4 linked regions of the Homo sapiens genome follow. The protein of the gene in region 4 purifies or fractionates together with the protein of the main gene of each other region. This does not show direct contact. Each region holds a gene or a part of one and is shown on either strand. Other genes may lie near its edges.

Region 1 (3,500 bases), on a different chromosome or scaffold from region 4:
GACCACCCAAGACGGTGCGTGGCCACACAGTCACCAAGAACATGCTCTGCATGGCAGCATCCAGCGGCTGCGGCAAGTGTGAGCAGCAGACGGGCCCGGGCAACTCTAGTCTCCGAGCCCGGGCACCTCTAGTCTCCGGGCCCGGGGCACCTCAAGTCTCCGGGCCCGGGGCACCTCTAGTCTCCGGGCCCGGGGCACCTCTAGTCTCCGGGCCCGGGGCACCTCAAGTCTCCGGGCCCGGGGCACCTCTAGTCTCCGGGCCCGGGGCACCTCAAGTCTCCGGGCCCGGGGCACCTCTAGTCTCCGGGCCCGGGGCACCTCTAGTCTCCGGGCCCGGGGCACCTCTAGTCTCCGGGCCCGGGGCACCTCTAGTCTCCGGGCCCGGGGCACCTCAAGTCTCCGGGCCCGGGGCACCTCTAGTCTCCGGGCCCGGGGCACCTCTAGTCTCCGGGCCCGGGGCACCTCTAGTCTCCGGGCCCGGGGCACCTCTAGTCTCCGGGCCCGGGGCATCTCTAGTCTCTGGGCCCGGGGCACCTCTAGGGCCTGTGCCTGCACCACCTTCGGGGCTGTGTGTCTGTCTCTTCTCTGTGGCCCAGGGAAGCTCTGCGCTGCTTCAGAGCCCCACGTGCAGCCCACACCGCAGACTTATCTATTCCCAGGGCCTGTGCGCGGCCTCAGCTGCAGGACGGGAGCAGGCTGCCCCCTTGTGGTGCCCAAGCACCGCGCTGGCCCAGCGGGCACAGGCCGGAGGCAGTCAGCCCCTCCAGCCACGAACCCTGCCCCATACCTGGTCCAGGTCATAGGAACAGGAGTCCACGCGCTGGCGCAGAACGTTCCACTTCTTCCCCCGGAACAGACGCCACAGTGAGGACAGGCCATGGATCTTCAGGCAGTACAGCCTACAGGACGCAGTGCTGTCGGGCCCGGCCCCGCCCCGCCCCGCCCCGCCCCCGCCCCACTCGAACGCCCGCCCAGCCGGAGCCTCTGCACCTCCCAGGGGGCGGTGGGGAGGGGGAAGCCCACGCCCACCTGGCTCCATAGACGTAAAAGCAGTAGATGTGGAAGGTGAGGAGGGCGATAATGTCCGAGAGGAGGGACAGGGCCACCGTCAGGCCCAGGCAGGCCGAGAGGCCCACGTGCCAAAGGATGTGCTCCACGAAGGGGGACATGAGGTGGATGTAGCCTGGCAGGGTGGGGTAGGCCCTCAGGAGGCGCTCAGACCCCAGCCCTCGGCCCAGCACAACCCTCACACACACAGGACATGAGGTGCGTGTAGCCTGGCAGGGTGGGGTCAGCCCTCGGGAGGTGCCCAGGCCCCAGCCCTCAGCTGAGCACAGCAGGCCTCACACACACAGGACGCTGGGGAGCAGAGTTGGGGGCACAGGGGGCGGGGTCTGGCTGGGTCCCTACCCTCTTCAGCAAGCTCTGGGGTCCCTGGGGCCCCCGCCTGCCCTGCACTCACTGATCCACAGGTGGATGTGGTAGAGGAAGAAGCGGCCCAGCACCTGGTCCAGTGCACGGTTCATCTTGAGCCCGGCGGGAGCACCCATCAGCCACTGCAGCAGATGCTGGAGCTCCTCGGCCACGTGCTGCAGGGACACAGGGGCCACGCTGGGGCGGGGGCAGCCAGGCTCAGCACCTGCATCTCCCCAGGCTCTTTCGTGATGGGCTCCCACCTTGGCCAGCCTTCCCTCCTCCAGGGTCTACCGCGTCCTAGCGTGGACAGCACACGGGCTCCCCTTCACAGATGGCTCCGGGATTGGGGTCTGAGGAGGCTGGTCTGGAGGCCTCTCTCTGCAGGCCTGGGTGACATGGCCGGGCCCACAGGGCATCCGCGTGGCCCCCTGCCTGCACCCACCTCTACCATCTTCCTCCCCTCTCACTACCTCGGCCACAGGACCCACTGGAGCCCTCGGCCCCAAACACGTGGACGCACTGAGGCCTGGCAGACCCTGATTCGGCTCCAGCCCTGCAGGGAAGCCCACAGCTGACACAGTCCCCTCCAGAGGCCCCACCCCATCGCAGAGGCTGGGGGCTGCCCGGGATGACCACAGGTGAGCGAGACAGTGCCAAGCCCATCAGGGCCACAGCGACCAGGCAGGAGGACAGGTCCCCAGAGGGAGGATGGCGTCAAGTTGAGGGCACAGGCACCCCCAAGAGCAAACAGGGAAGCAGGGTCTTGGCCGCCCAGGAAGAAACTCAGCATCCAGAGGCTGTGCCCCAGCGGGCAGACCCCAAGGGAGCCTCAGCCTCCCCACTAAGGAGACAGTGAGTGACACCTTGGCCCCCACTTGCCCATTGCGCAGGCCCCTTCCAAGCCTGGGCCAAGGCCTCAGCCACAGCAGGACTGGCAAGAAGGAGAAAAGAACACTTTTTTTTTTTTTTTTTTCTGAGACGGAGTCTTGTTTTGTCGCCCAGGCTGGAGTGCAGTGGTGAGATCTCGGCTCACTGCAAGCTCTGCCTCCCGGGTTCACGCCATTCTCTTGCCTCAGCCTCCCAATTAGCTGGGACTACAGGTGCCCACCACCATACCTGGCTAATTTTTTGTATTTTTAGTAGAGACGGGATTTCACTGTGTTAGCCAGGATGGTCTCGATCTCCTGACCTCATGATCCGCCCGCCTTGGCCTCCCAAAGTGCTGGGATTACAGGCATGAGCCACCACCCCCGGCTGAGAAAAGAACATTCTTTATAAATAGAGCTTATTTAATATTTAAAGGATAAGAGCTTGGCAGCAGGAAGAGACTTTCATTTTTAAATTAAATATTTATATTTCTGAGCACTTTTGCAAAAGGGAGGTCTAGGACAAAGTAGGCCGGTGGCAGGTGCGGACGACCACAGGCAAAGCTGCCGAGCCCCTTCCCCAGCCCCGCCCCTCCTTCCTTCTGGGCTGGAGCTCCCTGCACCCCCACAGCCACACAGACGTGCCTGATGCTGCCCCCAGAGGCCTGGCCTGGCCACAAGCAGGCCCAGTGCACACCTGCAGCCCACACAAGACCCACCCAGTCAGGCCTCAAGGAGGCCTCCACAGAGGCCCGAGGGTGGGCCAAAGAGTCAGGTACCACCCCCAGCAGGAAGACAAGCTCCTAATGGAAGAGACGGGGCTTTGGTGCTGAGGGAGGAAGACAGAGAAGCTGAAGGCCCAGAGGCAGCATGGAAATGCACTAGATCTGCAGAGGAGGGGGCTGCACCCGGCTGGAAACGGGGCACAGACCATGCAGGGAAGGTGGGAGATGGGAGACAAGCTGTGCCTCTGGCTCTCAGCACAGGAGTTACAGAATCAGCACAGGGGCAGGGCAGGAAGTCCCAGCTGGGCTGCACATGGGCCTCCCTGGACAGGAAAGGTTTCATGACCCTGGCTCTGCAGAGGGCCCCAGAGAGCCAGGAGGGCAACGCTGATCTCAGGGACCACAAGGGAGATACCAGGACGCTGGGCCCACAGGGAGAGGCGGGCTCCCCAGAGCCTCAGCCCGGCTGGCTCCTGCACACAGCCCCTTCAGA
Region 2 (3,500 bases), on a different chromosome or scaffold from region 4:
CTCTATTACATATCTGTCCACATTAATCCACTCTTTTATCCATACATTGGTCTATCTTATTTCACGATGCCCTTCAAAGTGAGTTGTACTCTTCACCTGTAAGTTCTAAAACATTACATATTACTGATTAGAGTTCAGTGTTTGTTTTCGTTTATAGTTTTTTGAAGTAACATTTACATATAAGATACACAAATCTTATTTTTTATTTATTTATTTTTTTTGAGATGGAGTCTTGCTCTGTCGCTCAGGCTGGAGTGCAATGGCGCGATCTTGGCTCACTGCAAGCTCAGACTCCCAGGTTCACGCCATTCTCCTGCTTCAGCCTCCCGAGTAGCTGGGACTGCAGGCGCCCACCACCACGCCTGGCTAATTTGTGTGTGTGTGTGTATGTGTGTGTGTGTGTATTTTTAGTAGAGACGGGATTTCACTGTGTTAATCAGGACGGTCTCGATCTCCTGGCCTCATGATCCATCCGCCTCGGCCTCCCAAAGTGCTGGGATTACAGGTGTGAGCCACCGCACCCGGCCAAGATGTACAAATCTTAAGTGTACCATTTACCAAGTGTTATCAAACACATCATCTATACAGCTTAAGCCTCTGTCAAGATACTGAACGTTACCGTCAATTTTCTTATGCTCTTTCCCAGTCAGTCCTACTCCTGTACTTCCGGAAGCAACCATTGTTCTCATTTTTATTTCTACCATAAATTTGTTGTGCCTGCTCTAGAATTTTATATTAGAGAAGGATACAGCATTTATTCTTTTGTGTAAGGCTTCTTTTGCATAGCACGATGTTTCTGAAATTTATCCATTTGATTGTAGTAATAAGTTGTTCCTTTTCACTGCTGAATACTTCTATTCTTTTCTTTAAATATACCACAGTTTGTTTACTCATTTCAGCGGAGTCTTTCTTTTTTCTTAAAGCATATGGGACTCAGGTATCTGTGGGGTCTTTTTAATTTTTCTTTTTCTTTTTTATCTATCACTGATATGTATTTGGAGAGAAGGGAGTGCATCAAATAGGCTCCTAACTGTGCCGTCTTTAACTAAAATTTCCTAGTTTAACTGGTGTGTATTAATTTTAGATTATTTTATGTAAATTGAGTAAAGTAGCTGTTTTTTAATTTTATTGGGAATTGAATTTAGCCCCTTTCATTTTCCTTTTAATTCTGTTCCATGGGCATTGTCAGAGTTTACATTTTTACATGAAATTTAAAAGTAGAAGATATATAAATGAAGAGCTATAGTTGGTGTTTTAAAAGTTCCATTGTCCTGGCTGGGTATGGTGGCTCACGCCTGTAATCCCAGCACTTTGGGAGGCTGAGGTGGGCGGATCACCTAAGGTCAGGAGTTCGAGACCAGCCTGGTCAATATGGTGAAACCCCGTCTCTACTAAAAATACAAAAATTACCTGGGCATGGTGGCACATGCCTGTAATCTCAGCTACTTGGGAGGCTGAGGCAGGAGAATTGCTTTAACCCGGGAGGCAGAGGTTATAGTGAGCCAAGATCACGCCATTGCACTCCAGCCTGGGCAACAAGAATGAAACTCCATCTCAAAAAAAAAAAAAGTTCCGTTGTCCCATAAATCATATTAGTCTGCCTCTTTTTTCTTTTGAGAGACGAAATCTTGCTCTGTTGCCCAGGCTGGAGTCCAGTGGCACGATCTCGGCTCACTGCAACCTCTGCCTTCCGGGTTCAAGCCAGTCTCCTGCCTCAGCTTCCCAAGTAGCTGGGTCTACAGGTCCACGCCACCATGCCCAGCTAATTTTTGTATTTTTATTAATGACAGGGTTTCACTATGTTTTGGCCAGGCTGGTCTCGAACTCCTGACCTCAAGTGATCCTCCCACCTTGGCCTCCCAAAGTGCTGGGATTACAGGCATGAGCCACCACACCCGGCCAATAGTCTGCCTCTTGAATATATATTTCTTTTTCACATTTAAAAAAATTCAATAAGTTCATCATGTGTTTGCTGTTAAATTAAGTATAATTTATCTATAATCTCCATACTCCTTTGGTGTTATCAACAGTATTAACAATAGAACTCTTTGTTTTCAAGAATGTGTTGATTCAGCCAGCTGAACAATACCTAGTCCTTCCTTGATATCTGAGGGGGATTGATTCTAGGATACCCACCCCCCATATTCTAGGATGCTTAAGTCCCTTATATAACATTACATAGTATTTGCATATAACCTACACACGTCCTTCTGTACACTTCAAATTATCTCTAGATTACTTACACCTAATGTAAATGCTGTGTAAACAGTTGTTATACTGTATTGGTTTTGAATTTGTAGTATTTTTTATTGTTATTTTTTATTCTTCCCCCTCGTCCCCAAATATTTTTGATGTGCACTTGGTTCATACAGAGGGCCAACTGTTTTGCAGTTCTGTGGGATCTCTAAAATAACGTAAATTGAGAAATTTAACCTCTTTCTGACACTTAATGCTAAAAGGAATCGCTAATGAAGCACAACAGATTTTACACATAACATAAAGTTTCAACATTTGTTAAAATAATATTTTATTTTTTACCTTTTTTTAGGTTTGGTTGGGATGTTCCAGTAATTCTGAGAAATTCAGAAGAGACCCAGTTCAGCACAAGAGTTTTCAAAAAGCAAATGAGACAAGTCAAGAATCCTTTTGGCTTAGAGATCACTAATCCATCTTCAGCTTCAATTACAAGTTGGTGGCTGTTTTCCAAAGATTTTCTCTCATTGTTTGCCCTCTTTTTTTAGCCCTTTTATTTTCTTTCTCTATTTCTTTCCCTTCATTAGACTTTTAACAAACATTTGTTGGGCAACTATGTTGTTCCAGGTGCTGTACTGTATATGACAGATACAAAGATTAAGAAGTTACAAACTTTACTCCTGAAGAATTTATCACCTAGTAAACAGAGGTAGATGTGTATACAAAGGAGTAGAATGAAGTATTACAGGTGTTAATAGTGAAGTCTCTTAGGACACTATGCCATTTTTATTGGTCTGTAGTAAAGTGAGAAATGATGTGTTATGTCTAAATACAGTTAACGTAAGGTTGCTAACCTTTTGAGGAACAATTGCCTTTTTATTTTTTTTGAGACAGATTCTTACTCTGTCATCCAGGCTGGAGTGCAATGGCACAATCTCGGCTCACTACAGCCTCCACCTCCCGGGTTCAAGCGATTCTCCTGCCTCAGCCTCCCAAGTCACTGAGATTACAGGCATGCACCACCACACCTGGCTAATTTTTGTTTTTTTAGTAGAGACAGTGTTTCACCATGTTGACCAGGCTGGTCTCAAACTCCTGACCTCAGATGATCCACCCACCTCAGCCTCCCAAAGTGCTGGGATTACAGGTGTGAGCCACTGCGCGCGGCCAGAATGATTGTCATTTAATCTGAAACTATGGTATTTTGGTATAAATTATTTTGATATAACATGTTCTTTTGTAGATGGTAGGTAATAGATGGCAGTTGTTTGCTTTTGTACTTGCTTGGAAAAATAAGTTGTCTGCAG
Region 3 (3,500 bases), on a different chromosome or scaffold from region 4:
TGTGGTGGCTCACATCTGTAACCCCAGCACTTTGGGGGGCCGAGGCGGGCGGATCATGAGGTCAGGAGATCGAGACCATCCTGACCAACACGGTGAAACCCCGTCTCTACTAAAAATACAAAAAATTAACCGGTTGTGGTGGCGTGTGCCTGTAGTCCCAGCTACTCGGGAGGCTGAGGCAGGAGAATCGCTTGAACCCGGGAGGCGGAGCTTGCAGTGAGCCGAGATCATGCCACTGCACTCCAGCCTGGGCGACGGTGGGAGACTCTGTCTCGAAAAAAAAAAAAATTAGGAACAATGAATTTTCTTAGGTATGATAATGGAATTGTGATTATGTAGGAGATTATCCTTAGATTTTTAAGACATATGTTGAAATATTTATAGGTAAAGTATCTATGATGTCTATAATTTACTATGAAATAGTTTGAGAAGAACAAACATATATATGCAAATAAGATGCACTATCAACTACTATTCAATCTAGATGGTGAATGTACAGGAATTAGTTGTACTATAATCCTTCCTGCTTTTTCTGTGTGTTTGAAATTTTCATAATAAGAAATTTAAGGCTGGGCATGGTGGCTCACGCCTGTAATCCCAGCACTTTGGGAGGCCGAGGCAGGCGGATCATGAGGTCAGGAGACCATCCTGATTAACACAGTGAAACCCCGTCTCTACTAAAAATACAAAAAAATCAGCCGGGCATGGTGGCGGGCGCCTGTAGTCCCAGCTACTCGGGAGGCTGAGGCAGGAGAATGGCGTCAACCCGGGAGGCAGAGCTTGCAGTGAGCCGAGATTGGGCCACTGCACTCCAGCCTGGGAGACAGAGCGAGACTCTGCCTCAAAAAAAAAAAAAAAAAAAAAAAAAAAAAAAAAATATATATATATATATATATACACACACACACACACACATATATCTCTATAGAGATATATATCTATATATCTCTCTCTCTATATACACATATATATGTATATACGTGTATATATGTATGTATATAGATATATGTGTATATATAGACATATATACATGTATATATATACACACATATATATACACACACATATATATATACACACACACAAAAGAAATTTAAGAGAAAAAAAGGCAGAGATATAGCATATTCATGGATTGGAAGACTGAATATTATGAAAGGATTTATTCTCCCTAATCCACAGATTCAACATAATCCTAGTCAAAAATCCCAGTAGGTTGTTTTTGTGAAAATTGACAAACTCATTCCAAAACTCATATGGAGGTGGCTGGGCATGGTTGCTCATGCCTGTGGTCCCAGCTTCTCAGGAGGCTGAGGCAGGAGGATTGCCTGAGCTCAGGAGTTTGGGGCTGCAGTGAGCCATGATTGTGCCACTGTACTCCAGCCTTTCCAACAGAACAAGACCCTGTCTCAAACAAACAAAAGACACAAAGGGGCTAATCATAAAAGAGCAATTTGATAAACTGCATTATATCAAAATTAAATTTTTTTTTCATTTAAAGGTAATCATTAAGAGAATGAAGAGTTTTTTGGGGCTGGATGATTAAAAAAAAGAATGAGGCCGGGCGCGGTGGCTCAAGCCTGTAATCCCAGCAATTTGGGAGGCTAAGGCAGGCAGATCACCTGAGGTTGGGAGTTCGATACCAGCCTGGCCAACATGGTGAAATCCCATCTTTACTAAAAATACAAAAATTAGCTGGGTGTGGTGGTGGGCGCCTGTAATCCCAGCTACTCAAGAGGCTGAGGCATGAAAATCACTTGAACCAGGGAGGTGGGGGTTACAGTGAGCTGAAATCATGCCACTGCACTCCAGCCTGGGTGACAGAGAGAGACTGTCTCAAAAAAAAAAAAAAAAAAAAAAAAAAAAAAAAGAATGAAGAAGTAACCTTTAGAGCAGGAATGGATAATTACAAGATGTTTACATCTTGTAAACAAAGACAAAGGACTTGTATGAAGAATATGTAAAGGGCTGGGCGCCTTGGCTTAAGCCTGTAATTCCAGCACTTTGGGAGGCCGAGGCAGGTGGATGACCTCAGGTCAAGAGTTCGAGACCAGCCTGGCCAAACTGGTGAAACCTCGTCTATACTAAAAATACAAAAATTAGCCGGGCATGGTGGCGCATGCCTGTAAGTAATCCCAGCTACTTGGGAGGGTGAGGCAGGAGAATCACTTGAACTCAGGAGGCGGAGATTGCAGTGAGCCGAGATTGCGCCACTGCATTCTAGCCTGGGTGACAGAGCAAGACTCCATCTCAAAAAAAAAAAACCAAAAAAAAAAACCATGTAAAGAAATCCTGTAAGTCAGTAAGAAAGTCAGACAACTGAATACAAATACGGACAAAAGACTTAAGTAGGCATCTCATAAAAGAGGCTGTCCAAACAGCCAATAAACACGTGAAAAAGTGCTTATATTCATTAGTCAGCGAGGAAATGCAAATTAAGACCACAATATGCTACTATGACACATGCACTAGAATGGCTAAAATGAAAAAAAATAAAACATACCAAGTGTTGGTAAAAAAGTAGAGCAACTAGAAATCTCATATGACCGCTTTGGACAACTGTTTGGCAACAGCTACCCAAGCTGAACATATGCACGCCCAGAAAACCTGCTCCCAGGCATCTACCCAACAGCAATGTGCATGAGATAATGTGCTCTGAAAGACATGCACAAGGATGTTCACAGCAATAATTCTCATAATAGACAAACTCCAGAACTACCCAAACACCCCAGTAGTAGAATGGATGTTTTTAAAAAGTAGTATATTCACACAGTGGAATTCTATATAGCAATGAGAATCGAACCATCGTCAACTACACACAATAATATTAATGAATCTCATAAACATTGTCTGGCCGGGTGCAGTGGCTTACACCTATAATCCCAGAACTTTGGGAGGCCAAGGCGGGCAGATCACTTGAGGTCAGGAGTTCAAGACCAGCCCGGCCAACATGGTGAAACCCCATCTCTACAAAAATACAAAAATTAGCTGGGCATGGTGGTGTGCACCTGTAATCCCAGCTACTCGGGAGGCTGAGGCAGGAGAATTGCTTGAACCCAGGAGATGGAGGTTGCAGTGAGCTGAAATCACGCCATTGCACTCCAGTCTGGGTGACAGAGCGAGACTCCATCACAAAAAAACAAAACAAAACAAATTGTGTAAAGTGAGGAAGCCAGACATACAGTACAAAATGTTCAAAAATAGGCAAAAGTAATCCATGGTGTTAGAAATTAGGATTGTGTAACCCTTGGAGAGTGACAGTGATTGGAAGGGGGCATGAGGGGGCTCCTGGGATGCCAGTCATATACTGTTTCTTGATCTCAGTGCTGATTACATGTGTACATTCAGTTTGTGAACATTCATCAGACAGAACACTTAAAATTTCTATACCTTTTTTTTTTGAGACGGAATATTGCTCTGTTGCCCAGGCTGGAGTGCAGTGGCATGATGTCGGCTCACTGCAACCTCCGCCTCCCAGGTTCAAGCAATTCTCCTGCCTCAGC
Region 4 (3,500 bases):
TTAAGGTAGATTCTGTGCATTTGTGGTCGTGGTGTTGTGATTGTTAATGAGTCACTTTGAGTACTCTAGTAGATTTGTCCAACAGTGTCTCAGTGGGCCCAGCTGGCACAACATGTAGAAATTATGAAAGAGTAGCAGAGATGAATTAAGTTTGCATTCACTTTCACTTATTTTAAAGCAATTTGTAGTCACCAAACCTTCAGTTATTTCTGCCACTATGTGTGCATATTCACCCTAATTCCAGGTATAGTGACCTGAAAGAGTTAATTCTTCTTTCAGTGGCACCTACTTTTATTTCCCCCAGCACTGATTTTTCTATCTGATGACTCTATCCTGGAACAGAGTTTACACTCGTTGTAAAGTGACATAGTAGTGAATTTATAAAAATTGCACAATGGTCAGAATAGACAAAGAAATCATATCTATGAGCTTCCACTCCAGTTTTTCATCCTCTGATGGTCACTTTATAATGACTGGGGCTGTTTTAGTTTGCAAATTTCATATTGGTCACAGGACTCTTCTTCTGAGAAAAAGTTTATTTTCTTTGGTCTGATGATACAATAATTTATTTCAATTACCTCTTTCCTCAATTTTTCTACAGACTGCTGAGCCAGATGGAATTATGGCTGAGCTCTTCTCTGTTTCTGTATCTTGTACACATTCTGACTGAAGAAGAAATCTATTTATTGTAGCTTGAATGTCATTGGCCTACTGTTTCCTTCTGACCCAGGAGTGAGCCATCACATGGGCATCTGGTCTAACTCAGAACACTCTGCAGGGACACAGCCTGGCATATTATAGGTTGCCTATTGGCATGCTGTCTACTTGACAGAATAGCAAAGTCAGTTCTGGGTACTTGCTTGTTGCCTACCAATTTTTGCTCTCAATGAGAGGTCAGAATAATGTCAATTTGCAAATGTTTGAGGAAACATTCCTGTCACCAAACCCAGAGGTTTAGCTGAATATGATGGCATTTTACAGGTGTCTTTAAATGTGGCTTTTACAGAACTTCACCTGGATCAATGTTTTGTGCATGTGATAATACAACTATAAATTTAGCTTATTAATATGATAATATTTGGAGCAGTATAATCTATAACCATGACTTCAAAAATCAAAGGTTAAAAGTATTCTTTTGCAGTGTTTTAAATCTGCTAACCTGAAAACTATACAAGGGTTTTTCTTTCAAGAATTTTAACTTGACAAATGCAAAGGAATATCCAACATTGCAAAGGTAAAGAGAAATCTTAGTTCCTTGGCATATAAGCACCATCAGTTCCTTTCTGGCCTTCCAGGGTCAGAACTCTGGGCTCCAAGGAGGTACAACTGTGAGTGAGAGAGTAGCTGCTGTGCTAGCAGGCTATGCATCCAGAACTAAACAGACCTAGCACTTTCTGTTGTACTGGAACCCATTAGGTATGTTCTAAAGTTATGTTTATTTTACTTTCCTGGTTTGTAAATTAGCATTTTAAATGACTACATTCAGAGGAAAGTATTCCACCCAGAATTCTCAAATGTATTACCTTTGTGTTTTATTTTATTTTAGTTTTTTTGAGACGGAGTTTTGCTCTTGTTGCCCAGGCTGGAGTGCAATGGCATGATCTTGGCTCACTGCAACCTCTGCCTCCAGGGTTCAAGCGATTCTCCTGCCTCAACCTCCCGAGTAGCTGAGATTACAGGCATGCGCCACCATGCCTGGCTAATTTTGTATTTTTGGGTTTCACCATGTTGTTCAAGCTGCTCTCGAACTCCTGTCTCCACCTTGGCCTCCCAAAGTGCTGGGATTACAGGTATGAGCCACTGCGCCCAGCCCTCATTTTGATATACTAGAAGACCAATATGCAACATAATGATTATTTTAAATGTTATATTCCCTTTTGCCTTAATGCGGAACAGTCTATGTATCCCTTTTCTGATGATTTGTAACAAATTACCACAAGTAAGTTGTTTAAAACACCACCTATTTGTTATCTCACAGTCCTGTACCATGTGGCTGAGTTGTCCGCTCAGGTATTCTCAAGGCTGAAATGAACACAGCTGGGCTGTGTTGTCCTTTGCAGGCTCTTAGGAAGAATCTACTATCGAGCTCATTCAGATTGTTGGCAGAATCCAGTTGTTTGGGGACTGAGATCTCTGTTTTCCTACTTACTATTGGCCTGGGGTCACTCTCAGTTCCTAGAGAACTGAGGACTCAGGACTCTTGTCCCATGGTCTGCTCCATCTTCATGGCTGGCACTGGAGAATCTTCCCTCACATGGAATCCCTCTTATGCTTCAGATCTCTCTGATTTCTGTCTCTGACCTCTAGACCCAGATTTAAAGAGCTCATGTGATTATGTCAGTCCCATCCAGATGATCTCCCTTTCTTAAAGCCAACTGTGCTACATAGCATAATGTAATCATGGGAATAAGATCCATCACAATCACAGTCTTGGAGACTATTCAGGGTGTGCACACCAGGATATAGGGATCTTGGGGCCATCTTGGAATTCTGCCTATCAGTTTATATCAATGTTCATAAAATAGCACTATGCAAAATCTGCAGTGGATATATTCTTAATACAGTCCTATTAGGAAGGAAAAGGAGATATTATATGCAGTCTCATGTCCCAGAGGGCAATTTGTTGATGTCTTCCACATGGATTTCCATGGTACGAAGATAGCATATTATTTCATTGAGTAGTTGTGTGAGTTTATTAATAAAATAGGGTATTTTAAACTTATTTTACTTTAAATCTTAGAAGAGGTGATTCATCCTTCTGTAGCTCAAATATTCTATGTCATAAATCACAGATAATACCATTACAAGATAAATTAAATCTTTTTTATAATTTTAATAGGAACTGAAGTGTATTCTTATTCTTCAGTAATACTACATCACCCATATGGACTACCTAATTGATTTTTTCCACATATGGAGTTTTGTGACCATTATTCTACCAAAAGACTAACCTTTGAAGCAATAGGACATATTAGAGTTCTTCACCAATAGAAAGTAAGCATAGTCCTGGGAGGTACCATCTAAGTATTAAAGAACTAAATAATCACAGTTATTTCAACTGTGATTGAAATTGTGATAGTAATATATGTCTTACTGTGTCAGATATATCAGTAGTCAACTTTTCAACTTGAATTTTTCCAAGTTTAATCAAGTTCTGGATGAAACTCATGTACATTTTACTACTTTTAGTTTTGTATTGTTTTAAATCAATATCCTGGAAACTCAGAAGTAAAAAAGAGAAAGAAGAAAAATATATGTCATTTCATGTAAATTTATTTAAAACACAGACTTTTGGCAAGGCACAGTGGCTCAAGCCTGTAATCCCAGCACTTTGGGAGGCCGAGGAGGGTGGATTGCCTGAGGTCAGGTGTTCAAGACCAGCCTGGCCAACATGGTGAAACCCCATCTCTACTAAAAATTCAAAAATTAGCCAGGTACGGTGGCAGATGCCTGTAATCCCAGCTACTAGGGAGGCTGGGGAAGAAGAATTGCTTGAATCC

The links.
Region 1: the proteins of PCDHAC2 (region 4) and PIGQ purify together in Homo sapiens (affinity purification with mass spectrometry; 2 studies listed by BioGRID and IntAct, with this or other methods). This does not show direct contact.
Region 2: the proteins of PCDHAC2 (region 4) and CGRRF1 purify together in Homo sapiens (affinity purification with mass spectrometry; 2 studies listed by BioGRID and IntAct, with this or other methods). This does not show direct contact.
Region 3: the proteins of PCDHAC2 (region 4) and ZDHHC18 purify together in Homo sapiens (affinity purification with mass spectrometry; 2 studies listed by BioGRID and IntAct, with this or other methods). This does not show direct contact.

What each region holds. Positions count from the first base shown.
Region 1 is NC_000016.10:576,468-579,967, reverse strand, and holds part of PIGQ (phosphatidylinositol N-acetylglucosaminyltransferase subunit Q), read right to left. Parts: intron 1,590-3,500; coding exon 1,463-1,589; intron 1,184-1,462; coding exon 1,030-1,183; intron 900-1,029; coding exon 788-899; intron 1-787. UniProt on the Homo sapiens protein: Part of the glycosylphosphatidylinositol-N-acetylglucosaminyltransferase (GPI-GnT) complex that catalyzes the transfer of N-acetylglucosamine from UDP-N-acetylglucosamine to phosphatidylinositol and participates in the first step of GPI biosynthesis.
Region 2 is NC_000014.9:54,519,906-54,523,405, forward strand, and holds part of CGRRF1 (cell growth regulator with RING finger domain protein 1), read left to right. Parts: intron 1-2,548; coding exon 2,549-2,688; intron 2,689-3,500. UniProt on the Homo sapiens protein: Able to inhibit growth in several cell lines.
Region 3 is NC_000001.11:26,843,688-26,847,187, reverse strand, and holds part of ZDHHC18 (palmitoyltransferase ZDHHC18), read right to left. Parts: intron 1-3,500. UniProt on the Homo sapiens protein: Palmitoyltransferase that catalyzes the addition of palmitate onto various protein substrates, such as CGAS, HRAS and LCK. Acts as a negative regulator of the cGAS-STING pathway be mediating palmitoylation and inactivation of CGAS.
Region 4 is NC_000005.10:140,972,976-140,976,475, forward strand, and holds part of PCDHAC2 (protocadherin alpha-C2 isoform 1 precursor), read left to right. Parts: intron 1-3,500. UniProt on the Homo sapiens protein: Potential calcium-dependent cell-adhesion protein. May be involved in the establishment and maintenance of specific neuronal connections in the brain.